Linked DNA regions of Homo sapiens: regions 1 and 2 are each linked to region 3. Evidence: fine-mapped expression QTL. A gene starts in region 3. Each other region holds a variant in brackets. All regions are shown on one strand. Distances are from middle to middle.

Region 1 (7,062 bases), 50 kb after region 3:
AAAAAATTAGCCAGGCGTGGGGGCACACACCTGTAGTCCCAGCTACTCGGGAGGCTGAGGCAGGAGAATCGCTTGAACCCAGGAGGTGGAGATTGCAGTGAGCAGAAATGGCGCCACTGCACTCCAGCCTGGGTGACAGAACAAGACTGTCTCAAAAAAAAAAAAAAAAAAAAAAAAAAATGCAGAAAATGGCCAGGCGTGTTGGCTCATGCCTGTAATCCCAATGCTTTGGGAGGCCGAGATGGGTGGATTACCTGAGGTCAGGAGTTCCAGACCAGTCTGGCCAACATGGTGAAACCCCGTCTCTACTAAAAATACAAAAATTAGCCAGGCGTGGTGGCAGACGCCTGTAATCCCAGCTACTCAGGAAGCTGAGGCAGGAGAATCACTTGAGCCCGGGAGGCAGAGGGTGCAGTGAACCAAGATCGTGCCATTGTACTCCAGCCTGGGTGACAGAGCGAGACTGTCTCCAAAAAAAAAAAAAAATGTGGAAAATGAACATCTCACCACTGCACCTGGGCCTTGGAGCCAGCAAACAGATGGCGGGGGTGGGGTGGGGGGTGTGCAGGGAAGGGCACACTTGCCATCAGCTTGAACTGCCTGGGCTCTGTCCCAAGAACAAGCAGAAGCAAGGAGCAAGGCACTCAGCCTCCAGGAGTCAGCAGCTGCCACCAGGCTCAGAGCCCCTGAGCCCTGCCCTGCCTGCTGTCTTACAGGCTCCCCATAGGGAATCCTTCTCTGGTGGGGAAGATGGTCTTGAAAGAGGGGACTCAGAGATCCTTTGTGCCATTCATGGGGGCTGAGCTGCCACCCCAGGGTGGTAGAAGTGGGAAGCTGAGTCCAGGTGATGAATACAGCAGCAAATGTTTATTCCTCACTCGCCTACTATACAAGGCACCATTTTGCACTTATGAACTTCTTCCATATATCAGCCCAATGGTACTCTTAACTCAATTTTTCTGGTAAATAGGGGCAGCCACATACCTCAGGCTACGGCCAGCTGGGCCCTGACAGCTGAGACGTGCGGCAGTGTCAGGGGACTGAGGTCCCTGGTTGCTCCCACCTCTGCACTTGTGGCATCCGACATCCAAGTGTTTCGTAAAAGCAGTCCCTAGCGTCGGAGAGCCGAGCAGAGGCTGGCACTGCAGCTTCTGGGGGAAAGGCCTGCCCTATGTGCCTGAGCCTTGTTTGTCCTTTTTCCCTTCAGCCTCAAGGCTGTCCTGGCCGGAAGCCCCCCAGACAACACAGTGGACCTGTCGGGAATCCCACTGACCTCCCGAGACCTGGAGCGGGTGACCAGCTACCTACAGCGCTGTGGGGAGCAGGTAGACAGCGTGGAGCTGGGCTTCACAGGCCTCACGGACGACATGGTCCTGCAGCTGCTGCCAGCACTCAGCACCCTGCCCCGCCTCACCACACTGGCACTCAATGGCAACCGGTTGACCCGGGCCGTGCTGCGCGACCTCACTGACATCCTTAAGGATCCCAGCAAGTTCCCCAATGTCACGTGGATTGACCTGGGCAACAACGTGGACATCTTCTCCTTGCCCCAGCCCTTCCTGCTCAGCCTGCGCAAGCGCTCCCCAAAGCAGGGCCACCTACCCACCATCCTGGAGCTGGGTGAGGGCCCAGGCAGTGGGGAGGAGGTCCGGGAAGGGACAGTAGGCCAGGAGGACCCTGGAGGGGGCCCTGTGGCACCTGCCGAAGACCACCATGAGGGCAAGGAGACTGTAGCTGCAGCTCAGACGTGACATGGAAGTGAAGGGCCTCACCAGGGAGTCCTTGTTGGGTAGAATGGGCAAGGCAGGCAGGGGAGGGCGCTTCTCCTATCAGGTGGGTTAAGGATATTGCCAAAAATTGGCCTGGGCCACCCACCTACAGAAAGGCAAACCATATCATCTGGGGAAGGGGATTTGTGTTAAAACTTCCCGTTGGTCCTCTGCATCTGCCCCCTATCCCATTATCTGCCATTTGGTTCTTAAGTCATCCCAGGCCCCAGAGAACCCTCTCAGCTCAGCTCATGGCCTTCCCCAAAGACTTGTGGAAATGGGCACATGGCTGGAGGTACTGTAAGCCTGAGCCATTGTGAACACCAAGAGCTTTCCCCCAGAAAAAGAATACAGTAGGGCCCCTACATGTACTGCATTACATTTTTCATTTAGGGGAACAAGCTCCAACCAGAGGAATGTGTCCCCACTCAAGGAAGGTGGGAATCTTTAGCAAAATTCCTGTAACTCCTGGTTGCCCGAGACCCCAGTTCCATCTATGCTAGGGGTGGACTGAACGTGGCCTACCTCCTTATGGAGACCCAGCCCTATTTCTGAGGCCCACCTTGATTCTAGGCATCTGCCCATAGGACCAGCTATCGCTATATCCTTTGACAGAGCAGCCTACGATGCCATGTGGTAGTGCTCAGGACAGACATGGTGCCCATGCATACAGGCATAAAGTCCTGTTCAGAAATCCCCTATCCACCTTCCCTACCCACTGCTGGCTGAAAAACTACCAGACTTCTATGTGGGCTCTGATGTCCTTAGCATGCAGGGTAAGTGACAAACCTGGCTTCCTTCTTGTCACTTGCCAGTATGACTTCACTGACCTAGACAGGCCGTAAGAACTCTTTCCCCATAACTCTTAAGTAATCCACCAACACATTCCAGAAAACCGACTGCAGAAGGTGGGCTTTAAAACCTTAAAAACCTAGGACAATGAAGGAGTCCAATCCCTTGGCAGATCCAACAAGATGGCTGGGGAGAGGGAGAAACAAACTGGAGGCTCCCAAAGGAACCTAACTTAGCAAAGGTTCTCATCTTATACCCTCCCCTTACCCAAATACTGTCCTACTGAAAGGGCCCTACCAGTTAAGGGATCTCTTCTAAATAACAGGCAACCCCTAGAT[C/A]CAAGTAGTTCAGTCCAGGAAGACTGGGAGCCAATCACTCTTGAACCTTGTGGGCAAACAGTATGGGGGAGGACCCTCTTGACAGGCCTTGGTAGGCAAGATTCCAACACAGGAAGACAGCAAGATGGGGCCTAGAGTATGGGGCCCTACATGCTGTTAAGGTTGTGGTTAGGAATGGTGCAATGCTGCAGGAGCTGGAACAAAGCTACACCAAGGAACAGAGCACAGAGCAGCAGGGGCCGAAATTGAGGAGGCCTTAAATGCTTTGAGCTTTTGCCTTCAGTCTAAAGCTGTAGAATAGGGGGTTAAGAGCTTAGGCTGACCACAGGGAAGTTTACAAGCTAGAGCGAATATCTGGACTGCTAATATCTGACAACAGTAGGCGAAATTTACTTTTTCTTCAAATACACATTTTCAAGAATTGACACCCAAGACCATCCTTTATTGTAGTATTAGTTCATGGTAACTGCATGAAAAAACATTTCAGGAGGAATTTACAATTTCCAGCTTAAAGAACTTTGCCCACCAACATAACCAATTTATGAAAGTCAATTCATTAAAAGGTATAGAACCTCTTGTTGGGCATGATGGCAAGGGACAAAGCTACAACTTGGCCTGTGCCTTTGGAAGCTGAGGCAGGAGGACCATCTGAGCCCAGGAGCCTGAGACCAGCCTGGGCAACATAGAGAATCCGTCTCAACAAAAAAAAAATTTTAGCCAGGTGTGCTGTGAGCTGTAGTCCCAGCTACAAGGTGGGAGGATTGCTTAGGCCTGGGTGATTGAGGATGCAATGAGCTGTGATTGTGCCACCACACTCCAGCCTGGGCAATACAGCAAGACTGTCTCAAAAAAAAAAAAAAAAACCCAAAAAAACTCAAGAATGTAATGAATGATACCCAATGTGCCTTTTCTAGAAAAAGTTGCCAAATATATCTCTTGGATCTGCTGAGCATGTCCTCTGATACATAAGGCAAGCATGTTTCTACACCCAGTGTTGATGCCAGTTAGTTTTCAGAATCCAAACTGATGGCAGCTACTGGTCCTTGGGACTGACATCCTCTGGGAATATAACCTGCAAAGAAACTACATTTCAATCTCACTTTCTGCACCAACTGACAGTCAATCACAGGGTAAGAGATATCTTCAGAAAACCATAGGTTCACCACTACACAATCTGCCGGTAATTCCAGCTATTTTGGGTGATTTCATCATTTGATATCTTTTTTTTTTGAAGCGAGTTTTAACAAGATCAGCTGTTTATTCATTCCACTATGGGGTTGAAGGGATCATTGGCCAGCTCAAGGCTTACCTTCTCTTGGGCTGAGATGCTGCTGCCAGCTCTAAAACAGCACTCTGTTCTCAAAACCTGGGGGAATGGAGAAGGCGCATACACCTTAGAGACTGCAGATGCAGAGCAGGACAGGCATTTCTGATGACAGTCAATTAATGACTTTACAAATTTAAGTCCATCCTAACAAAAGCCCCTTAAGACCTAATTAGAGGTAATTTTTCTAAGTTTTTGTAAATTATTGAGGACTACAAATCTTAATTAGCTTCTCAGTAGGTTGTAATTTTTTTTTTTTTTTTGAGATGGAGTCTCGCTGTTGCCCAGGCTGGAGTGCAGTGGCACGATTTCGACTCACTACAACCTCCGCCTCCCGGGTTCAAGCGATTCTCCTGGCTCAGCCCCCAAAGTAGCTGGGATTACAAGTACACGCCACCACACCCGGCTAATTTTTGTATTTTTGGTAGAGATGGGGTTTCACCATGTCGGCCAGCCAGGCTGGTCTTGAACTCCTGACCTCAGGTGATCCACCCACCTTAGCCTCCCAAAGTGCTGGGATTACAGGCCACTGTGCCCAGCCTCAGGGGAGTTGTAATCTCCATTTCAGTCATATCAATTTAAACTTCACAAAGCTAAGATTACTTTTCCTTTTCACATCTGAGGAAAACTACATCTCAGCAGACAGGTAATTTGCCCGAGACTAAACAGCCAAGAGGTAAATAGAGTAGCCCCTCTTTCTAGGTAATCCACCCTGGCTCCACTGCCACCGGAAACTAAAATCAGTATCTCTGGGATAGGCTACACTGTTACAAGGTATTAGGTTAACCAAATCCAATTGCCAATATTCGACCTGACAGCTAGGCGTGGTCAGCCACTAGCCTCCCCATAGAGCAAGGCTTACCTCATGGCAGGCTCCTGGCTCCAATACTCAGCTGCCAAACATGATGCTGATTCTTCACGAATTTGCAACCTAGGTGAATATAGCAATTAGGTCACCGTTCAAACAAGTTTACTCCTGGGAACCAGCAAGTGGTGAAGACTTGACTGCAATCAGACAGGAGTAGTCTTCGTCAGTTATCGCTTCTGACGGCACTTCCTATTAGTGATTTCATCAGAGCAGTCAAGCACCTCACAACCCTCCAGTACTGTTCCAACCGCAGATCTAGACCCTACCTGAAACTTAAGCTAACCCTGCTACTGGAGACATTTCTTAACGAAGGAGTTTGTTTCTGCATTATCAGTTTGCTTTAAATGCAGTTCTAGGTTAGGACTGTGGCTGAAGCAGCCATCTCCAGTTTCTATTTAAGTTCCACCCTATGCAATGACATGATAACGTTACCCTAAAGTGTATAAAACACCTAAACGTAGAAAACTGTCAAAACGCCAATTTCCGTGCATTCAAGTGACAAAACTACGTTCCATGTTAAACCCTACACCAGAGAGCCTCTCACCTCGTGGCTACCCCGTCTTCAGCACTCTGCAGTGGGTACGCAATCTTAAAGAGGGAGTAAGGACAGGAATTCAGGGCAGGGCTCTGGCAGTTACGGTCAACTAAGTTGTAGAGGTTTCAGCGACTGCGGTCAGATAGACATTAGACGTCGTCAGTTATCGCTTCTGACGGCACTTCCTATTACAAGTATCATCAGGACAGTCGAATAAGTCTTCCAGTAATACTGTTACAATCTTACCGACGTACACCGCCCTCGGGGTACCCCAAACTGCAAGCCGACCCCAACTTACCCAGTTCTCTCGGGTTTGCACACCCCCACTGTGGGCCGGGGAACCGGGTCCCGGCCTTCGCAGACTCCAGGCTCTGGCAGATGTGGCCCTACCACAAAAGAGTGATCCATGAGCCTCAGCCACGGCAGCCGGATTCGGCCCCGCGCTGCCCTGCCAGGCTGTCCAATACCGGGCCGCAGCGCCCGCCGCGAAAGCCACGCGGGCGCAGGAGCCGGGGAGCCACGCCATCTCAACAGCTGCCCTCCGCCCTCTAGACAGGCTTCCCGGGAACATCTCCCCAGAGACCACAGAAGCTCGAGCTCTTTATTTGCTCTTGCCCCCCAGCTACTACTCCCAGATTCCTAGAGAGCCTACCTCCATAACAACGGGAATGAAAAGGTCACACCTTATGTGCGCCAGGCCCTTAAGGAGTCGGAATATCCCAATCCTCACAAAAGGAGGGGGACGCTGGCAAAGACTCATGGGAACTTTCCGCCAAGTAACGATTTAGACCGGCGCGCTACCCAGGACTCCCCCTCCTGTTGAGTCTATGGTCTCTTCCACAGCCCCGGGAATTCTGGGTCACAACACGCGCGGGGAGTTCCAGGGCGCCTGCGCGAGGGCTGGATCGCGCGTTTGGGCCCCACCTCCGCCACTCCTTAGCTGGGTGGTCTTGGGCCAATTACTCATTCTCTTTAAGCTTCCGATTGGTCCTCTAGTAAACGGAGACACCAGCGCCCCAGAAGATCACGTGAGATGACACACGTGAAAGCCTGTAGAGCTGTGGCACAAGGCAGCCATTCATCCTAGTAGCTCCTCCTGAATCTATTGAGCGTTGCCAAATACTCTCCCCACAGCTATTTCACCACATCCACGGGGCTTCTCAAACCCCTGCGCACTGGTCACCCTCATTACTCCTTTAGCACGACCTTTAGGGAACGAGCTGACGTCTTATCTAGATCCACGTCCATCCTCTGCTCGCCTCTGGGGTAAAGCTCTGCCCACCTCCTTTCCTCTCCTCATTCCTTGGGGCCTCCTCCACCTATGCCCCTGCCTCACCTTCCATGGAAAACTCTCTCTACTGTGGCTTTCCTTTCAGCCTATGAACATGCTCAGCTCTCTCCTTGAAAAAGAATCCATGCAACCACGTTTTGCACAC
Region 2 (10,450 bases), 37 kb after region 3:
AGGAAATGGGCAAAGGAGCAGGAATCCCATTGTGAGAGCTCCACCCCCCTGGCCTAATCACCTCCCAAAGGCCCCACCTCTAAATACCATCACCCTGGGGATTAGGTTTCAACACGTGAATTCTGGGGAGATACCAACATTCAGTCCATTGCATGGTGTAACCTTCCTCAGACCACTTCAACACCTGGACTTTGTTTTCCTCAAAACAAAATCAGAGCCAGCCAGAGTGGGTGAGCCCTGCTAAAGCCCAGAGACCTGGAAGGCCCCTTTCGTGCCCATGTGGCAAGCGAGGCTCTCTGGATGAGGCAGGGGTGGGAGGTCCCCAGGCTGGTGGTAGGAGCAGCCCCTCCATCCACCCCAGAGGGCTGACCAGGACATCCTGGTCAGAGCAATTTGCATCTGAGAAGTTCATGTCAGCCCACGTTATGGGTCTAGAGATTATAGGCAGAGGTGTCAAGACCGGAGAGCTCGTTCCAAAGGTAAATTGGATACTACACGGACCTCACTGAACATCCTTTAGTGAGGGGCTGTGCTGTAGTTTAAACAAAACCCAAACTCCTCATCTGGCTTTGCCTGAGTCTCTTGAGCTCCCCTCTCCCACTTGCCACCCTGCGAGCTCTGCTCTAGCACGTGGGCCTCCCTCCTCTGTTCCTGACACCTCCACACCCTCTCCTATCTTAGGGACGTCGCTGCTCCCTTTGACTGCTCCAGCCTCTTCTGTCTGAGTTGCCTTCTCCTGAGTTCAGACTGAGCCTACGGCCTCTGAGAGGCCTTCGTTGACAAGCCTGCCTAGTGTAGGCTCCTGATCAGCCTGTCTCGAGCCCCATTTATTTTTCCATTCGTTTCTCTGTTTTACTTACTGGTCTCTGAAATTACCTTGCTTATTTATTTGTTGGCTAATTTATTGTCTGTTTTCCCCACTAGAATATAAACTCTGAAGGGAAGGGTGTCTGTCTTGTTCATAATTCCAACCTGCACCAGGCAGGAAGCAGGCAACATATTCCATTGTGAAGTTTGAAGAGAGTTTAGTAAAGGGTTGAGGACAGGATAAAGGAAGTCAACAGGGGACATTGAGACATCCAAAGACAGCAGTAGTAGGAAGTTGTTTCACAGGAGGACAAGCTGTATTGCCAGAGGCAGGGTGAGAACACCTGGTCCAGAGCCACGCTGCATTATCCATTGCCATATAGCAAACTACCCCAAAACTTAGTGGCTTAAAACAACAGACATTTATTGTTATAGTCTCTGTAGGTCAGGTTTGCAGGGGCCGCTTAAGTAGGTAGTTTAGCTTTGGGTCTCTCAAGACATTGGTCAGGGCTGCAGGTGTCAGAAGGCTTAACAGAAGTTGGCAGGTCTGCCAGTCTCGGTGGCTCACACCTTTGGGAGGCCACCGAGCACTTTGGGAGGCCGAGGCAGGTGGATCATCTGAGGTTGGAAGTTCGAGACCAGCCTGACCAACATGGAGAAACCCCATCTCTACTAAAAATACAAAATTAGCCGGGCGTGGTGGCGCATGCCTATAATCCCAGCTACTCGGGAGGCTGAGGCAGGAGAATCACTGGAACCCGGCAGGCGGAGGTTGCCGTGAGCTGAGATCGCGCCATTGCACTCCAGCCTGGGCAACAAGAGCGAAACTCCGTCTCAAAAAAAAAAAGAAGTTGGCAGGTCTACTTCCAAGGCGGCACACTCGCCCTGTAGCCTCTCCATGGGACTGCTTGAGTGTCCTCACATCATGGCAGCTGGCTTATCCCACAACAGGTGATAATATAGAAGCCATAATGCCTTTCTTTCTTTCCTTTCTTTTCTTTCTTTCTTTCTTTTGACAGAGTCTCGCTGTATCACCTAGGCTGGAGTGCAATGGCGCAATCTCGACTCGCTGCAACCTCTGCCTCCCGGGTTTAAGCGGTTCTCCTGCCTCAGCCTCCCAAGTAGCTTGGGATTACAGGCACCTGCCACCACAACTGGCTAATGTTTTGTATTTTTAGTAGAGACGGGGTTTCACCATGTTGGCCAGCCTGGTCTCAAACTCCTGACCTCAGGTGATCCACCCACCTTGGCCTTCCAAAGTGCTGGGATTACAGGTGTGAGCCACTATGCCTGGCCTTGCTTTTTTGTTGTTGTTGTTGTTTGTATTTGTTTGTTTGTTTGTTTTGAGACAGGGTCCCACTCTGATGCCCAGGCTGGAGTGCAGAGGTGTGATCATAACTTTCTGCAGCCTGGAACTACTAGGCTCAAGTGATCCTCCCACCTCACCTTCCCAAGTAGCTGGGACTGCAGGCAGGCACCACCATGCCTAGCTAATTTTTTGTTTTTTTTTTTCTTGTAGAGACGGGGCACTCACTATGTTGCCAAGGCTGGTCTCAAACTCCTGGCCTCAAGCAATCCCCCTCCCTTGGCCTCCCAAAGCACTAGGATTGCAGGTGTGAGCCCAACCCCCACAATACCTTTTAAGACCCAGTCTCAGAAGTCACAAACCATCATTTCCACCATTCTATTGGTTCTAATGATTCTGTTGCTCACTTAGACCAGCCCTGCTACAATGTGGAAGGACATTACACAGGGGCACAGATGCCAGGAGCCGAGAGCAGCAAGGCTGTCTTGGAGGCCGGCGGCTGCACATGCCGAAGTGGGGGAATCAGAATAAACTCCCCCATCCGTCTCTCCTCCTGCCCTCTGGTCTTGCTGCCATTGCTCCCATTAGCTGAACCCAAGTGGAAGCCAGGGGGAAGAGAGCCCAGTGATGCAGTCTCTAGAGCCCAGCCTTCTGAGCAGAGAAGGGCAGAGTGGACTGTGGGGCAAGAGGAAACAGAAAAGCCGGCACACAGTCTCTGCATCTGGAATGGTGTCCAGTGTAATGAGGGGGACAGTCAACATTTGATGAATGTATGAATGAATTTATGGATGAGGGAGGGATAGCCTTGAATGGAGGGCAGTGGAGGGCTGTGCTTGTCGGGGTCCTGGAGCAGTTACAGAGGTGCCTGGGGAGTGAAGATGGCAGATGGTATCACTGCCTGATGGCTGAGAGCCAGAGCAGTGTCGGGTGCTGGTACCCCTCCCAGGTCAGCCTGCAGGTCAGCACGTCATCTTTCCTGACAGATTAATGAGAAGCCCCTCAAACACGTTCTGCCCCAGGACCTGGGCAGCCTCACTGGGAAGGTCTGGAGAGGCTGCTGCCCTGACCTGCACTCATAGTCACTTGACTGTGCCACATCCCACTCCTGCCATCTTCAGGGATCGGGGGAGGACTGCAAAGCATTGATTCAGCACACAGCCATTGAGCCTTCTGGGCGGGTTAGGATTCTGCTGCACATAACAGAAGCCCAGGCGGGCTGGCTCCAGCAAGGAAGAAAATGTGTTCTACAGATATCGAGGTGTCTTGTGGTGCCCACGGGCAGCCAAGTTAGACCAAGGTGCTAGAACTATAGATAAGCACGGTGCAGAGGTCCCTCCTTCCCTCCTCGCTGCTCTACCCTGCCTCCCTCTGTGTTCCCTCTGCACAGACTGCTCTTCCCCCTGCCGCATGGTAGGGAATGTGGCTAGCTATGGCTCCCAGGTTACTTCTCAGGGTTCCAGCCACTGGAGGAGTTAGGGTATGTGTGTCTCAGTGTCAAGTCCAGCTTCCTCCTCCTCTTCCTCTTCCTCCTCCTCTTCTTTCTCCTTCTCCTCTTCTTCCTCTTCCTCCTCCTCTTCCTTCTTCTGCTCCTCTTCCTCCTCCTCCTCTTCCTCCTTTTCCTTCTTCTCTTCCTCCTCCTCTTCCTTCTCTTCCTCCTCCTCTTCCTTCTCTTCCTCCTCCTCTTCCTTCTTCTCCTCTTCCTCCTCCTCCTCTTCCTTCTCTTCCTCCTCCTCTTCCTCCTCCTCCTCTTCCTGATCCTCTTCCTTCTTCTCCTCCTTTCTCCTCTTCTTCCTCCTCTTCCTCCTCCTCTTCCTCCTCCTTCCTCCTCTTCCTCCTCCTACCCCTCCTCTTCCTCCTCCTCTCCCTCCTCTTCCTCCTCCTCCTACTACTGCTACTCCTCCTCCTCCCCCTCCCCTTCCTCCTCCTCCTCTCCCTCTTCCTCTTCCTCCTTCTCCTCCTCTCCCTCCCCCCGTTCCCCACCTTCTTACTGCTCCACTTCTGGGCCAGTGCTGCCTAGTCCTGTTCTCTGCAGGAGGGAGCCCTGGAGGGGTTCTTTGAAAAGTGGAAGAGTTGGGAAAAAATGAGACAGTCTCACTGAAGGCTTTTCTGGTTGTAAATGATAGAAACACTTTGAACTGACCTAAGCCAAAGACAGGATTTCTCACAAGGAGGGCAGCAGATAGCGGTTAGGAGCATCAGCCTCAGAGCTGGCTGACTTTAGATCCTGACTCCGTCTTACAAGCTGGGAGGCCTTGCCCATCTATTTAAGTTCTTTTTGCCTCAGTTCCCTCATTTGTAAAGCGGGGTTATTAATAATACCTGTCTCATAGGGTTGTAGTAAGGTATGGGACTATAGTTTGTAGGGCACTTAGGGAGGTCGAGGCAGGTGGACCACTTGAGGTCAGGATTTGAGACCAGCCTGACCAACATGGTGAAACCCCGTCTCTAATAGAAATACAAAAAAAATTAGCCGGGCATGGATGGCGGGTGCCTGTAGTCCCAGCTACTCGGGAGGCTGAAGCAAGAGAACCGCTTGAATCTGGGAGATGGAGGTTGCATTGAGCTGAGATTGCGCCACTGCACTCCAGCCGGGCGACAGAGCAAGACTCCGTCTAAAAAAAAAAATTGTAGGGCAGAACTGTGTGGTACTTTTCCCTCACTCATTATAAGGGTCATGGCTGACACTCCTATAACCAGACACAGGGTAACAAAAAAGCAGAACAAATGTGTTTAATCAAAATTTTACGCAACATGGGAGCTTTCAGAAATGAAGACGCTCAGGTGAGGCACGGTGGCTCACACCTGTAATACCAGCACTTTGGGAGGCCGAGGCAGGCGGATCGTCTGAGGTCAGGAGTTCAAGACCAACCTGGCCAACATAGTGAAACCCTGTCTCTACTAAAAATACAAAAATTAGCTGGGCGTGGTGGCACGCGCCTGTAATCCCAGCTACTCGGGAGGCTAAGCCAGGAGAATCACTTGAACCTGGGAGACGGAGGTTGCAATGAGCTGAGATGGTGCCACTGTACTCCAGCCTGAGGGCGGGGACAGAGCAAGACTCCGTCACTAAAAAAAAAAAAGAAAAGAAAAGAAAAGAAAAGAAATGAGGACCCTTAGCCCCAGCTACCTGGGAGGCTGATACAGGAGGATTACATGAGTCCAGGAATTCAATACCAGCAAGGCCAATATAGTGAGACCCCCATCTCTTTAAAAAAAGAAAGAAATGAAGACCCCAAACCCCAGGGAAAGAGGTTTTTTTGTTTTTTTGGTTTTTTGTTTGTTAGAATTTGTTTATTTTAATTATATTTATTTATTTATTTTAAAACGGAATTTTGCTCTTGTTGCCC[G/A]GGCTGGAGTGCAGTGGCGTGATCTCGGCCCACCTCAACCTCTGCCTCCTGGGTTCACGCGATTCTCCTGCCTCAGCCTTCCGAGCAGCTGGGATTACAGACATGCACCACCATGCCTGGCTAATTTTGTATTTTCAGTAGAGATGGGGTTTCTCCATGTTGGTCAGGCTGGTCTCAAACTCCCAACCTCAGGTGATCCGCCCCCCTCTGCCTCCCAAAGTGCTGGGATTACAGGCATGAGCCACCACGCCTGGCCTGTTTGTTTGTTTGTTTTTTGACAGAGTCTCACTCTGTTGCCCAGGCTGGAGTGCAATGACGTGATCTCGGCTCACTGGACCCTCCACCTCCTGGGTTCAAGCAACTCTCCTGCCTCAGCCTACCAAGTAGCTGGGACTACAGGTGCCCGCCACCATGCCTAGCTAATTTTTTGTATTTTTAGTAGAGATGGAGTTTCGCCGTGTTGGCCAGGCTAGTCTCGAACTCCTGACCTCAGGTGATCCACCCACCTCGGCCTCCCAAAGTGCTGGGATTACAGGCGTGAGCCACCACACTCAGCCAGCTATCTGTTTTTATACTCAGGCTTGGTAAAGAGTGCACAAGCTTGTAGAAATGCGATTGGACAAAGGGTGTGATCTAATGGTGATAGGCCGAGGGGACCCAGGAAGGCTATCTGCTCAGATTCTTCTTGGCCTCTCTCTGCAGTGTTCCTTCCTACCCCTCTGGAATGGTCTTCAAGACAGAAGGGAGAGAGTGACCTGCCTAGTTTTATGGCTTGCTTTGAGGGAGAGGGGTTCTGGTCTCTGTGACCTGCCTTGGGGAAGAAGAATTCTGGTTTCTCTGACTCACTCTGGGGGAGAAGAAGGGCCAGAGACAGGAGGGCAGCAGAAGGGCAGAAAAACTTTGCTTCTGAGGCCTTCCAATTTCCGTTAGTTCAAAGCTCTCTGCTGGCCCCGGCGCCATGCTTTGGAATTGTGTTCTGAGCCCCAAAATGTTCATGCAAACAGTGCTCAGAGGAGATGCCCAATGCATCGCAGCTGCTCAATACATGTTAGCTGTTGTCAGTTTAGTTCAGACAAGCAGAAGGGAACTCTCACTCCTGAGAGAACATCAGCTCACTTGTGCTCTCAAGGCAACTCTATGAGGTGTCCATATCTATTGTTCCTGTCTAGCCAGTGAGGAGACGCAGGCTCCTCAGTTCTCCCTGGTAGTGGCAGATACACTTCCATCCCGAGCCTGGCCCTGTGCGTGGCTGCCCCCTTGTGGCAATGGCAGTGCAGTGATGCCCCCTTGTCCTCTGTTCTCGTGTGTGTGTGTGTGCGTGTGCGTGTGTGCGTGTGCGTGTGTGCGTGTGTGCGTGTGTGTGTGTGTTTAGGAGTCCCACACCAGTCCCACTCTGGCGCCCAGGCCAGAGTTCAGTGGCGCGATCTCGGCTCACTGCAACCTCCACCTCCCGGGTTCAAGCGATTCTCCTGCCACAGCCTCCCAAGTAGCTGGGACTACAGGCACCCACGACTACGCCTGGCTAATTTTTGTATTTTTAGTAGAGATGGGGTTTCACCATATTGGACAGGCTGGTGTCGAACTCCTGACCTTGTGATCCGCCTGCCTCGGCCTCCCAAAGTGCTGGGATTACAGGCGTGAACTACCGCGCCCGGCCTCTATTCTCTTCTTTTAAGGCTCAGCTGCCCAGGCTGAGAGGGTGGACAGGGATTTTGGCCCCAGATTTTGGAAACCCTGGGAAGTGATTGAAGGAGGAGCTGCAGCTGAGGGGCTCAGTTCTAAGCTTTGGAGACTGGCTACATTCTGTCCTGGGGTGGTTCCAGGAGTGATGCTGGGCAGACCACCTGATCCCACCCATGGTCTTTGAACCAGTGCTTCTCCACCTCAGCTGCACTAGGGAATCACCTGGGGACCTTTTAAAAATCCCCGTGTGGCCAGGCAGGGTGGCTCACACCTGTAATCCCAGCACTTTAGGAGGCTGAGGCGGGCAGATCACGAGGTCAGGAGTTCGAGACCAGGCTGGCCAACATGGTGAAACCCCATCTCTATTAAGATACAAAAAATTAGCGGGGTGTGGTGGCAGGCGTCTGTAATCAGCTACTTGGGAGGCTGAAGCAGGAGAATCGTTTGAACCTGGGAGATGGAGGTTGCAGTGAGCCAAGACCGCGCCACTGCACTCCAGCCTGGGCAACAGAGTGAGACTCCATCTCAAACAAAAAGAAAAAAAAAAAAATCCCTGTGCCTGAGCCACCCACCCATCATTGGGGTGGCCCAGGCATCAGTGTTATTTTGTTGTTGTTTGGTTTGGTTTGGTTTTTTGAGACTAGGTCTCACCCTGTCTGGAGTGCAGAGGTGTGATCACGGCTCACTGCAGCCTTCACTTTCGGGGCTCAAGAGCCTCCTACCTCAGCCTCCCGGGTAGCTGGGACTGCAGGCACATGCCACCATGATGGGCTTTTTTTTTTTTTTTTTTTTTTTTTGAGAGCAAGTCTCACTATATTGCCCAGGGTAGTCTTGAACTCCTGGGGTCAAGTGATCCTCCTGCCTCAGCCTCCCAAAGTGCTGGGATTACAAGAGTGAGCCACAGCACCTGGCCCATCAGTGGACTTTAAAGCTCCCCTGAGATTCCAGGCCGGGCGCGGTGGCTAACGCCTGTAATGGGAGGCCGAGGCGGGCGGATCACAAGGTCAGGAGATCGAGACCATCCTCGCTAACACAGTGAGACCCCCCGTCTCTACTAAAAATGCAAAAAAATTAGCCGGGCATGTTGGCGGGCGCCTGTAGTCCCAGCTACTGGAGAGGCTGAGGCAGGAGAATGGCGTGAACCCGGGAGGCGGAGCTTGCAGTGAGCCAAGATCGCGCCACTACACTCCATCCTGGGCGACAGAGCGATACTCCGTCTCAAAAAAAAGAAAAAAAAGCTCCCCTGAGATTCCGGTATGAAAGATTCCAAGGTAAAGAAGCACAGCTCTAGATGGGCCATCTCCAGTGTCACCTCCTATTCTCTGTTTTATTTATTTATTATTATTATTATTTTTTTTTTTGAGATGGAGTCTCACTCTGTCACCCAGGCTGGAGTGCAGTGGTGCGATCTCGGCTCACTGTAACCTCCGCCTCCTGGGTTCAAACAATTCTCCTGCCTCAGCACTCCGGAGCAGCTGGGATCACAGGCGCCCGCCGTCACGCCCAGCTAATTTTTGTATTCTTAGTAGAGACAGGGTTTTGCCATGTTGGCCAGGCTGATCTCGAACTCCTGACCTCAGGTGATCCATCCACCTTGGCCTCCCAACGTGCTGGGATTAACAGGCGTGAGCCACCGTGCCTGGCCCCTATTCTCCCTTTGAGCTCTAAGGTCGGCTCCCACCATGGCCCCACTCCCTGAACTTGTGCTGGCCATGGCCTCCTTGTTGGAGACCCAGTGGCCTCTGGGTGGGGGTCTAACCCCATTAGTCACTCTTCTTGGTGTCCAGACTCCACTACTCCTGCTGCTCTGATGGAGTCTTCTCTGACTGCTGTGTGTCCACTGTTCTCTCTCCCTCCTGCTTAGCTCATTCTCTGGCCAGGGGTTTAATCTTACTGATGAATGTGTCCAGCCTGGACCTGTCTTGAGCCCCAACCCCATAAGTCCAGTGGCATCCACAGCTGGAGGTATTGTGAGCTCCTCAAACTTACCATGGCCCCACATGAGCAGGTCACCCCCCTCCTGCCTTCTCACCCACTTCTTGTCTTGAGCCCCTTGCCTTCTACTCATGTCCCAAGCCCAAAGCCTAGACCCTCCTCACCCTCCCTGCCCACACCTTCTCCATCCAGCATATCAGTCAGCTGTGTGGCCTCTGTCCCCTCAGCCCCTTCCAATAGCCTGGCCCTGAGTCATCCTCTCCACCTCCTGTCCACCCCTCTCTCCATCTCCCAGTCTGAGGAACATCCCCCTTGAGGGACTCCCCTGCAGCCCCCATGACCAGCTCCTCCTGCTTCACCCGCCTTGCTTCCCTCCACACAGTCATGTGGCCAGGTTCAGCAAGAAGCTAAGTCTAGGAACCAAAAGATGTCAGCTCCAGGGGTGGGGAATGAAGCCGTAAAGGCAGATGCTCACCTGCCCCCACATCTGCAACACACAAGAGTGACACACAGGAGTGACAGGTGTAACACACAGGTGTGATACAGGTGCAAGTGGCAGGTGATACAAGCTTATTCATCAGACAGCCAGGCACCAGGAAGCTGGGGGCAGGGGTGGGGATGGGCTGTGAACTGGAGCCCAGGGGCCTCCTCCAAATCCGTTCTGTTCAGTCTCGGGCCCTCCTTTGCTTCCTGGGTCCCTCCACAGATGCCTCTCTCCTTTGGACATTCAACTGCCATCTTCCCAACTCCTCTCTCTCTTGTCCCCCTTCCTCAGAGTCTCCTTCTCTTGCCTTCCCATCAGCCCCAAGCCCATCCCCAGCCCTCTGGGCCTCAGGCTCCCCCACTGCATAATGGGAATAACGAAAGTATCTACTGCCTTGGGGTGCTGTGGGAATTCCATAACCTTCTTGCGTGATGTCTGGTGTGCAGGGCTGACAGTGGCTTGAACCATGGAGGGACCAGATGTGATCAGGCCCCAGGCCTTCACCTGCCCTCATGTCAGTAACACACCCCACAGCCGCCACATCACCAAGCCCTGCCACAGACTGTTTCCTCCTCACTCAAGGATGCCTCACGTTTTCTTTCTCCATCTGAAATCACTAACCCATCTGCTCTTAAAAGCTGAGCTCAGCCTGGGCGCGGTGGCTCACACCTGTAATCCCAGCACTTTGGGAGGCCAAGGCGGGTGGATCACTTGAGGTCAGGAGTTCAAGACCAGCCTGACCAACATGGTGAAACCCCATCTCTACTAAAAATACAAAAACTAGCCAGGTGTGATGGCGGGTGCCTGTAATCCCAACTACTCGGGAGGCTGAGGCAGGAGAATCACTCGAACCCAGGTGGCGGAGGTTGCAGTGAGCCGAGATCGTGC
Region 3 (10,450 bases):
CAAGATGCAGGTTAAACAAAGAGTGCACAATGACTCCCGGGTTTCTGGCCTGCTGTTACTAAAAGCGGAGACAGGAGTGGGTAGATTGGGAGGGAGGCCTGGAAGAGGATGCGCTCATTTGTCGAGCATGAAGTGCTCACTATTGGAAGAGATGATCCTCCGTGGGTCCCTTGCACTCTCACACATCTTGCTGTGTATGCCAAGATTGCAAGACCCTGACCATTTTTAACCTGGGCCACTTCTCAGTGCTGTGTTTACAGCGAGCCGCCTTGAGGGATGAGGTACCATCTCCCTGGAGGAGGAAGAGCAGGCTTGCTTACTCCTCCCTGCATAAGCAGCTCCAGGCTCGGTGTTCCTCAGCTATGACGCTAACCAGCTGCCTGTGGAACATCCATCTGGGCCCCCCATATTGCCCCTGTGAGACTTGGAGGCAAATATGCTGATGCACATGCTTCTTGCTGTGCTCTGAGTAACAAAGTCCTATGTTTCTGACCACAGAGTGTCATGTCTTCTTTTAGCATCCATGAATCAATGACAGGTTAATTTATTAGCTTATAAGTTGGAAAGAGTCATCAGCGTGTACATGGCAAGTAAAGCCATGATTACAAATAATATTGCCCAGCAGAGCATGTTGGTAATGTGCCTGTAGTGCCAGAAACGCGGGTGGCTGAAACAGGAGTGTCCTTGAGCCCAGGAGTTCAAGGCTGCAGTGAGCTATGATTGCACCACTGCACTCCAGCCTGGGTGACCCTGTCTCAAATAAGTTTATTTGAGACTCTGTCTCAAATAAATGAATAAATAAATAGCATTGCCTAGGAAGAGATACGGGGTAGTACCCTGCATAAAGGCAACAAGTAAAGAATGAGGGTAAGAAAAGGAGCTCCCAGGAGAACTCAAGAAAGAAACCTAGAGGAGAGTAGTTCCTTGCAAGCCAAGGGAGTAGAGTTTCAATCAAAAGAGTAGGCAACAGGATCAGATGCTGCTTAAAAGTCAAGTAAGATGAAGACTGAATGTGGCCACTGAGTGTAGCAACTAGGTCACTTCTTTAGCTGTTGCTAAAGGCTAAAGGCAAGAGGCATTTTAGTGACATGGTGTGGCCAGAAGCCAAGCTGAAGTGGGTGAGGAACGAATGGAGGTAAAGAAAGAATGACAATAGGCTGGGCGTGGTGACTGATACCTGTAATTCCAGCACTTTGGGGGGCCAAGGCCTGAGGATTGCTTGAGGCCAGGAGTTCAAGACCAGCCTGGGCAACATGGTAAAACCGTCTCTACAAAAAAAAATTACAAAAATTAGCTAGGCATGGTGGCGTGCACCTGTGATCCTGGCTACTTGGGAGGCTGAAGTGGGAAGCTAGCTTGAGCCCAGGAGATCAAGTTTGCAGTGAACCGTGATGGTGCCACTGCACTTCAGCCTGGGCTACAGGGTGAGACCCTGTCTCAAAAAAAAAGAAGGGAGGGAGGAAGACAGAGAGAGAAAAGGAAAGAAGGGAGGAAGGAAGGAAGGAGGGAGGGAAGGGAGGGAGGGAGGGAGGGAAACTAAAAATCTTAGCTGAAAAGAAAGGATAAAGTTGGGGCACTGGTGACTGAAGCAGGCAGATGCAAATGAAATTTTTCAATAGATGGAAGAGAGGTGAGTAGAGCATATCTTGAGGAGAACAAGCCAGAAAACAGGAAAAGTCAGGGTAAAAAAATCAAGAGCAAGGGGAGGAGGATAGAATCAGGTCTCTGAAAAAGAGGAGAGGGCTAACATTCAGATCCCAAGTGAGGGGCTGGTCTGGCCCCTCTCCCATTGAAATGGCATTTGCCCCAACCACACACCCTCAAGCAGGCCAACAGGCTATCTAGGTTGTGTGGTCTGTCTCCAGGTGGGTAGAGCTCACTGTCTGTAGGGAGGGGCCTGGTCAATAGGTGTCCTTGGTGGCCACTTTGTCTGGTGGTCCTGCAGACCAGAGATGAGAGACACATAAGTATTTTTCAAGCTGGGTTCTCTGGAGATGCCAGCAGGTGTGTGCTCCTATGCAAAGGGTTCAGGTAAGTTTGGAAAGTGCTGTCCAAGCCCTGCAAAGCCAGCTTGTAGGAAGACTGAGTGTTCTCTGCTGGCAGAGATGGACATTTGGGAGTGGGGTGGCCAAAGGGAAGAGAATGCCTGCAGGAGAGATGCCAGGACTCATACTCAAGGTACTCAGGGATAACGGAGAAGACACCTATGGAAAACCCTGTGATCACAGAGCAGGAAGAGGAACTCATTTGCAGAACATCTCTACTCTGCTTGAAGTTTATATATTGACAAAGATTCTTTGCTTGGCCAAACTTTAGTCAGGCTCCCAAACCTTCTCCTAGACCCTCTTTGCACTTCCATGTAAAATCCAGTTTTAGCAAAGACCCTGTTAAGACAGTTTAGCAAGAACCCTCCATCTTGTATATCTGATCATCTTCAATATCTGATTAGGTTTATCATCCCCCACCCTCCCCCAGGTGATCTCTGGTCACCTGGCCTGTCTAAAGCAAGAATTCTGTTAGGTTGGTGTTGTGAGTGCCACAAAGTCAGAAATAATCAGGTTCATGCACATGTGTGTCTTTCTACAACGTCAGGCTTTTATTGATGCTATTTCAGTCATAAAAGCCACAAGCCACATGGGGTTCTCAAGGAGGCAAATTCTCCTTAGTTTTCCCCATTCACTTGGTAATAAGAGCTGTGGGCATACAGGCTCAAGTCACTCCACAAGTCAGTCAATACTGCCAACCATACATGGTAGTATACTTAATCAATATATAAATGTTATAGATTACACATTCCACATCAAAGTACATTTAACATCAAGAGAAAAGGGGATAGGGAAGGAGCGGTTAACAATATAGTCCAAGGAGAGTGACTTGGACAAGGGGAGTCTCCTGGCCTGATCCAAACAGTCCTCAGTGTCTTGCAAGGAAGAGTCTTTGATGTGGGCAGAGTGTGGGCAAGATGGGGTCTATCCAGACGGTCATCTCCAGTTGCTGAAGTCCTGCTCTTTTTATGGCTACAGAATCCTCTGGTGAGGACTGATAGCAAAGAGTGTGCCTGTTTATGTCTTTATCTGGTGGGGTGTAGTCTTTATTGATTAGGCGAACATCTGGTTCCTGTTGGCATGAGGCTTTTTCAAATGTAAAATGGACCCTTTTTCTAAGATGGAGTTACTTATGTCAAGGGTGCTCCATACAACCTGTTTAGCCAGAATCCCCCTCAGCCCTGATGTTTCCCTTATTAAGTTTCTATCCGCTGACCCCCACCCTGCTCCTTAGCAACGAATTCCCACTTGCCCATGCTGTAATTGGAGTTGAGCTCAATCTCTCTCTCCCTGCAACTGCAAAATCTCATAGCAGAGGTCCCTACACCTATGGTAATGGTCCTGAATAAAGTCTTCCTTACGATGCTTTAACTCATGTCATTAAATAATTTTTTCCTTTAGCAGTGTCCACCGAGTTTACTCTCCCAATTCTTGGCAGTGTTATTATCCTAGCCTGACAGGAAGAATCAGGACTCAAGAAGCTGAAGACTCGCCTGATACTCAGTGCTCACTAAGTAGTGGGGCTCAGCTCCCTGTGATTTGGGATCCAGCCTCCTGCCCCTACAGCCCACGTGCCCTTACACCCTCAAGCAACACCCAGAGCTGGGGTCAGAGGCGAGCTTGCACAATTGCTTCTGCCCTGCGCTGGGACCAGGGCGGCCTGTGGTCTGCAACAGAGAAGCTCCCCCACCTGCCTTCGCCTTCACTCTGGCAAGCCCTGGCAACACCATGAGATCCCAGGGCTCTGGTCCCTTACAGACTGGGCCTGGCAGAGGCACGGGGAGGAAGGTGGGCCAGCAGGGTGTACCGCTGGGCCTACTCGCAGACGTGCGTTTGCTTTGTTGTACCAGGACTACCCCAGGGACCCTTCTCCAGGGCTGTGAGAGTGAGAACAAGAGAACACAGGAGTTCACACCTCTCCGGTCCAGATGCTTTGAGAGCATGATGGAAGCAACAGGCCCTCTCCATAGAAGGGCACGCACACAACCCATAAGCTCGCACAGTTTCCAGGTTTACGCACCAACCACACCACTACAGCGCCCTGCAAGCAGGCCAGGTCTCAAAGGAGCGTGCATGGGAATCACCCAACATGCTGGCTAAAAAGGCGGATCCCAGGCCCCACCGAGGAGATTATCATTCAGTAGGTCTCGGTGGAGGCCTTAGAGCCTGCGTTTTTAACCAGCGCCTCCGACGATTTGGGCGCTGAGGCTCAGCGGAACCCACCTTGAGAAACCCGACTCTGGGCCTAAGAGAGCCCCCCAACACACACACCCCCATGCTCCAAACTTTCCCCATCTCGCCCGACGCACCGGGCGCGCGGTGGTGGAAGCGTCGGGGAGCCCGGTGGGGACCGAGAGCGACGGCCCATGGGGCCTGCCTGTTCCCCTCGCCCCCGCGCCACGGCCCCGGGAAGCGCAGCACTGCCGCCCGCAGGAGGCGCGACTGCCGAGAGGACGCAGGCAGGGGGCGCCTGGTGGTGGTCCCCAGCCCGGAGCCGCGGGGCGGGAAGGAGCGGGAGCCCGAGAAGAGGGAGGCGCGCGACGCCGCGGAGCTCCGGCGCGGAGGCGGGGGGCGGGGCGGGCCGAGCCGGGCCGGGGCGGGGCCGGCGGGCGGGCCGGCGGCGAGCGCCCGGGGAGCGCGCCCGGGTAGCCAAGAGGGAGGAGCGCGGGGAGCGCCGACAGCCGCCCGCCCGCCCGCCCCCGCGACGCCCGCGCGCAACAGTTCCCCCAAAGTTGCAGCCCGGGAGGCGAGCGCGCACGGGCGGCCGAGGGGCGGGCGGTTGGCGGGGACGCGGCCTCGCGGCCCAGAGCGGAGAGTCCCGGCGGGCGGCGGCGGCATGGGCACCCGGCAGACCAAGGGCAGCCTGGCGGAGAGAGCCAGCCCCGGCGCCGCGCCGGGCCCCCGACGCGAACGGCCGGACTTCTGGGCGTCGCTGCTGCTGCGCGCCGGGGACAAGGCGGGGCGCGCGGGCGCGGGGATGCCCCCCTACCACCGGCGAGTCGGCATGGTCCAGGAGCTGCTGCGGATGGTGCGCCAGGGCCGGCGGGAGGAGGCGGGGACGCTGCTGCAGCACCTGCGCCAGGTGAGCGCGGGGAGGGGGCGCGGGGGGCGCGCCGGGCCAGGGGGCGTGCTGGGCCGGGGGGGGCGCCCCATCCCTAACCGAGGAAGCCGGGGGCACCGAGGGGCACCGCCCAGGGGCCCCTTCCGCGGGGATGGAGCCCTGTCTGGCAGCAGGTGCCTCGGCGCTTCCGCTGAATGTGGGGCCTCAGGGCAGGGCGGAGGAAGGCTGGCCGGGTGAGGCCCGCCGAAGGGGACCTGTTGGCATAATGTCCCCACTGCTCTCCTCCGCAGGCAGAGAAGGAGGCTGGTCTCCGGGGACAGTCGGTGGGCGGGGAAGCAGGGATGCCTGCCTGATCTGGGCCAGGGCTCTTTTCTTCCTGTCTGCCCACTGGCAGTCACTCCCGGCCGAGGGTCCTCAAGGAATGCGGTTATCAGTTGGACCTGGCTTGGCTTCCCGAGAGCGAGTCCAGGGGCACAGCCCTGGGGCCAATGAGATTCCAGTCCCTAGGTCCTTCACTCGCCTGGGAGGCATCCTGGATTGTAGTTCAAGGAGGAGACTGTTTCCTCTCCCCTGACTAACTTCAGCAGATCCTCAACCATGAGCCCCTGCGGAAAGCGGTAGAGACAGGGGAGCTGGATTTGGTGCCCTGTGTGACCACCTGGCCAGCAGCAACTTCAGGAGACTGCCAGGACTCTGTCCTTAGCCTGTGCCTGTCCCACTGGCTAGGGACAGATGTTGCGGAATTGGCCAGTTCCCTCTGCTTTGGGGCTGCCCTGAGGCTAATGCTATCACTCACCTCTCTGTGGCTTGTTTTCCTTTGTCAGTTTCTTTGGTGGGGAGAGGAGCATGGCCCATGCCATGGATTTTGTTGAGTATAAGACAGGCAGGGGAGTGCAAAGCTGCTCTCCTGCATCACCAAGCAGGTTGTCTTGGCCTGGCTTTGGTGGGTAGACAATCCAGGCCCCATATTCTTGCTAGACTGACCCCATTAGAGGTGGAGTCTACCGTGGATGGCAGAGGGAAAATCTCAGGTGACCTTTCTGGGGTTTTCCAGTCGCTGCTGAAAGAGGCTGTAGGAGCACCTTCTTGGGAGGAGCTTCCAAAATCTAATCAGACCCACATCCCTCTTGGGTTCTGCAGCACTCTTCCCCACCTTTGTATCTGGTGCGCTCTTACCCTAAAGTATGTGTCCCCAAGCTGTGCACTGCACAGGGAGAGGCAAGCAGAGACGAGGGGACTTGGGAAGATGTGGGACTTCTGCTTCTGCCTCTGTTTTCCCCAACAACTTCCAGAATGATGCCCGAGACGCTGCTGGATCCCCATGTGCCTTCTCTGAGTTCAGTCATCAAAGAAAGATGACATTATGCACCACTGAACTTTAGCAGTGTGTATTTCTTTGTCTTTTGAAAATTGGAAGCTGACATATGGCCTTTATAGTAACTCTTTCACTTTTAAACAGAATATTGGGTTTTCCAGACCATGGTATCCTATTTACACACCATACAGTAAGGTTTTCCTGATCACATGCTGTTTCCCCCACCCTGCAATGGGTGCTTTGGGGGATACAGAAGAACAGAGGGAGCTGGCAAGCACTTCTTGGAGGGTGCAAGACCAGAGCGAAGCTTGCATGATGGAGGGCCGCTTGGAGGCCCACGGGAGGAGACTGGACCCAAAGTGGGCAGATACTTTGGGCTCCCCAGTCCCTGTAGGGCTGAGTGTGATTCCACATCCTGGGGACACTGAGCTTCTCCCTGCCTTGAGGGAGAGTAGATAAGCCCCTGCAGCCCCACTGTGGGATCCTTGAAACAAGAAGCATTTCCTCAGACATCTGCACATGGGTCTTATTGGTGTCCTGGTACCCGCCTCAGCTGCAGGACTGGGAGGGCTGATGGGGGGGTGGGAGGGGGCTTATCAGACTTCCCCCTTTTCTGTGAAAGCAGCAGGTCCTCAGGCTCTGGGCTTCTGGGCTCCTGTTGGGCTCCCTTAACCCCTGGCTGGGGATGCAAGGGCCGTGGGCCTGGAGCTGCCCTGTGTGGCCTGGAACGGATGGAGCAGGACCCCTCCCGAAAGTGGTCATGGGCCTTGAGCAGTGTGGGAGTGGAGCACAGGAGTGTTCACTTGCCTATGACAGAGAGGTGGCTTTCTAGGACCCTGAGGCCATTTGGAGGAATGTCCAGCTGGATTTGTGCTGTGCACTGAAGTGGCTCTTTCTCCAAAATTGCATTTTCCTTTCCATTCCAGTTTCCTTCTCTAGTCTGGTGGTGGTGATGTTCAGAAAGGGAATGAGCAGCTAGTGAGAGCCTTGAGAACACACAAGCCTCACAGGGGTCAGACCAGCAAGAACCTCTTCCTCAGCAAGACAGCCAGTAAAGACAGGGGTCTGCAAAGCGTGGGGCACCCTGTTCTGCAGGAATGTCATGCAGGCCTCTGGGGTGGGAGTCAATGAGCAGGCACAGAACCAGGGAGGGGCAGCAGCGAGGACAGTAGCCCTCACCTCCATTCACACAGCATGTTCTCCTGCATTTGATAACTTGGGTTTGGCTGCTGGATTTGTGTATGCCCAGAGCCATATGGCTGGTGGGGACTCGGGAGCCTTTGTTCCTGTGCTTCTTAGCCTCTTTGAGTCCTTGATCTTTTTGAGGCTCTGAAAAAGCTACACACAATCTTCCCAGGCAAATGCACTGACTCACGCAATCTCACAGGCAATTTCGGAGGGTTCACAAAGCCCCTGAAACCCAGCTACAGACTCCAAGCTCAGAATCTCTGCTCCAGTCCAATACCACCCTTCTCCCTGCTGTGACTTGCTCCAGGCTGGGGATCTGGAAACAGGGACCTGACCCGGGTGCATGTGTGGCAGTTCACGGTGGGCTGAAGGATTGTGGCTGCTGGTGCCACTTCTTCTGAATGCCCCTCTTCAGCATCTAAGATTTGGAGGGCGTCTCTCCAGCTTGTCACTTGCTGGAGAGGTATCAGGAGGCCTCATTCAGCACAAATGACCCTGAGCTGTGGCCAGGGGTGCAGGCAGGATGCCAGGCAGCTGCCTTGAAGGAACAGAAAGTAATCCCCTTCCCTTTAAGATAAGTGTAATCTGAGAAGAGTCCAGGGCCAAGGATCAAGTAGGCAGCTCGCCTTCCGGTCCTCAGTCAGCTGTGACCTTGGGCCCAGCAGATAACCTCTCTGAGTTGTGTTTCTTTGTTTCCCAAAGAGGGATCTGGGGTACTGAGCACAGCAAATGCTACAAAGTGAATGAAATGGTGTTGGTGCTGCCATTCAAGACACATTCTCTTGGTGACTGTGAAACAGGAGAATCTGCCTTACTCACTTTGGGTCTGGCCCCAGTAGGGGCAGGGTTGTGGCATCCTTTCTCAGGCATGGCCCAAGAATTTTTTGGATTCCATCTACCTGGCCAGGGTTCAGTCTGGATCAAAAACTCACTGCACATTTAGAAGCATCTGGAGCGAATGCTCGTGGAGATAAAACAAGCCAGCTTTGGATGGGAGAGGCCATTCCTCTGCCCTTTCCTGGCCGCCATCCTTCCAGGCTTTCCCCTTCCCCAGATGTCCTTCCCCTTGGGCTCAGGCCTGCTGTCTTTAAGGAGCCCTGGAGAAGAAATAACCTTCCGCCATTGAGAGAGGGCAAGTGCCAGGCCACCTTGAGGGTGAGCTGTCATCTCTTCACCCCAGCAGTTTCCCTGAGTCCTCAAAATTTTAGACTGAGCTGTCGGCCTGCGTCATGGAGCAGCAGAAAAAGGCGTCTGTTTCCCTGGGATACACCCAGCTGAGGTAGCCCCTGTCTTCGTGTTCACCAGCACCCCAGCTTTCCCATGAGAAGAGGCTGATGGGGTTGGTTTACTCGAAGTGTGGCGCACACCTCTTAAGCAGGGCTGTTCCTATGTTAACTTGTTTGGGCCTCCCAGTGGTATGGCTAGGGCCTGGAATCCTGGTTCCTGCTGCTGTCTGGGGTGGTGAGGCTGGCTTCACTCTGCACCTGGGAACAGGAACCACATCAGCTAATGCCAACAAGAACCACTGAGGCCAGGCGAAATGCTCACACCTGTAATCCCAGTACTTTAGGAGGCTGAGGCAGGCAGATGACTTGAGCTCACCAGTTCAAGACCAGCCTGAGCAACATGGCTGTCTCTACAAATGCAAATACAAAAACTAGCCAAGTGTGGTAGTGTGCACCTGTAGTCCCAGCTACTTGGGAGACTGAGGTAGGAGGATGGCTTGAGCTTGGGAAGCAGAGGTTGCAGTGAGCCGAGATCAAGCCTCTGCACTCCAGCCTGGGCCACAGAGCCAGGACCTAAGAGTTTAACTCACCCCTCAAGTGGAGCTGAGCAATGGACAGACACCTGGAGACTCCCTGGAGATGTGGAGACTGGACAGGTCGTTACTACCTAGAAGCAGAAAGATGAGCATAATGACCTCAGAAGGTCACCTTTTTCCTTCCACCTCCACCTAAGAACACTTCTTTAGGCAAGCAGGTTGGAAGGCTACCAGACACCGAGCAGGGGGGCCCTACGCTGGGCCTGCTCTTCTTCCTCCACCTGGAATGCTTTTCATGTTTCCACTGAATGCACCTTACCTTTCCAGGGCCACCTTCCTGGGCATGTCAGCCGAAGCTCAGAGATCCATGTGGCTCTTAGTTCCTGCCACACTGGGAGGCATTCAATCCATGCAGAGTTTTTCCCTGATGTTCCTTTTGTTTGTCAGATAAGGTCAAGTGCTTCCTGAGGGCGGAGACCCACCACCACCACTGTTATCCACTGTATGGTATTGAAAACCTGTAGGCTCGTGGCATACCTTAGTGAGTCTGTGTGCCGTGAAGATGTGCGTACGCGTGTGTGTCTGCTGCTGTCGTCAGTGTGTCCTCAGAAAGCACTTGGATTCCCCAGCTACGGCTGTGCAACTGTGGGCTGATTTACCAGGCTTGTTAGTACTGTCATGAGACACAGCACGTTTGCTTTCCGTGTGGTTGGATTTCTGGGAGTGATGTCCACAGGGCTTGGCTGTTCCTGGCAGCCTGCCAGGCGGTGGTGTTCTTGGAGAGAGGAGTGGCATGGTGCCCAGGCTCTGTGGCACTACGGGATCCCATCCGGCAGGTGCAGTCTGGGGCCTCTGCCGAGGTGGCGGGAGGGGAGCGGAGCCTGATGGGAGAGTCTGGCCTCCACATTCCTGATCGGCTCTTGTGCTGAATCATGTTCATTTCCTTCACAAAGAGAAACCTTCCTTTTTAAAATCCGCCGCTCTCTGCCTGGGCTGGATCGAGGCTTTTCCAGTGATAAAGATGCAGAGGGATTCCTGTGTCAGAGCCTGCTTCATTGGTTTCCAAGGCTGCCAGGGAC

The links. PIP is the estimated chance that this variant, and not a neighbour inherited with it, causes the effect.
Region 1: its variant is fine-mapped to the expression of LRRC75A in transverse colon (CEDAR, PIP 0.95).
Region 2: its variant is fine-mapped to the expression of LRRC75A in whole blood (INTERVAL, PIP 0.96).

The regions. Positions count from the first base shown.
Region 1 is chr17:16,438,277-16,445,338 of GRCh38, reverse strand. It overlaps LRRC75A (leucine rich repeat containing 75A), which reads left to right. Exons shown (of 4, transcript NM_001113567.3): 4 at 1,208-3,762. The coding sequence ends at 1,751. SNHG29 (small nucleolar RNA host gene 29) reads right to left here and starts at 6,352. Exons shown (of 4, transcript NR_045025.1): 1 at 6,279-6,352; 2 at 5,086-5,154; 3 at 4,209-4,265. It overlaps SNORD65 (small nucleolar RNA, C/D box 65), which reads right to left and starts at 4,113; the gene lies at 4,041-4,113. It overlaps SNORD49B (small nucleolar RNA, C/D box 49B), which reads right to left and starts at 5,830; the gene lies at 5,783-5,830. It also overlaps SNORD49A. RefSeq lists enhancers at 1,452-1,531, 645-1,544, 5,147-6,048, 6,354-6,683, 6,744-6,933 and 2 more. The variant C/A (reference allele first, on the strand shown) is at 2,900.
Region 2 is chr17:16,449,676-16,460,125 of GRCh38, reverse strand. The region is part of intron 2 of LRRC75A (leucine rich repeat containing 75A); the gene reads left to right. The region is part of intron 3 of SNHG29 (small nucleolar RNA host gene 29); the gene reads right to left. Among named protein-coding and RNA genes, the nearest start is that of SNORD65, 14 kb to the right of the region's middle. RefSeq lists enhancers at 2,744-3,243, 3,244-3,745. The variant G/A (reference allele first, on the strand shown) is at 5,461.
Region 3 is chr17:16,486,422-16,496,871 of GRCh38, reverse strand. It overlaps LRRC75A (leucine rich repeat containing 75A), which reads left to right and starts at 4,679. Exons shown (of 4, transcript NM_001113567.3): 1 at 4,679-5,127. The coding sequence starts at 4,882. It overlaps LOC124903936 (a long non-coding RNA gene), which reads right to left. Exons shown (of 3, transcript XR_007065641.1): 1 at 9,691-10,450; 2 at 9,426-9,502. RefSeq lists silencers at 4,427-4,766, 4,857-4,906, 5,017-5,076 and enhancers at 9,042-9,966, 9,967-10,450.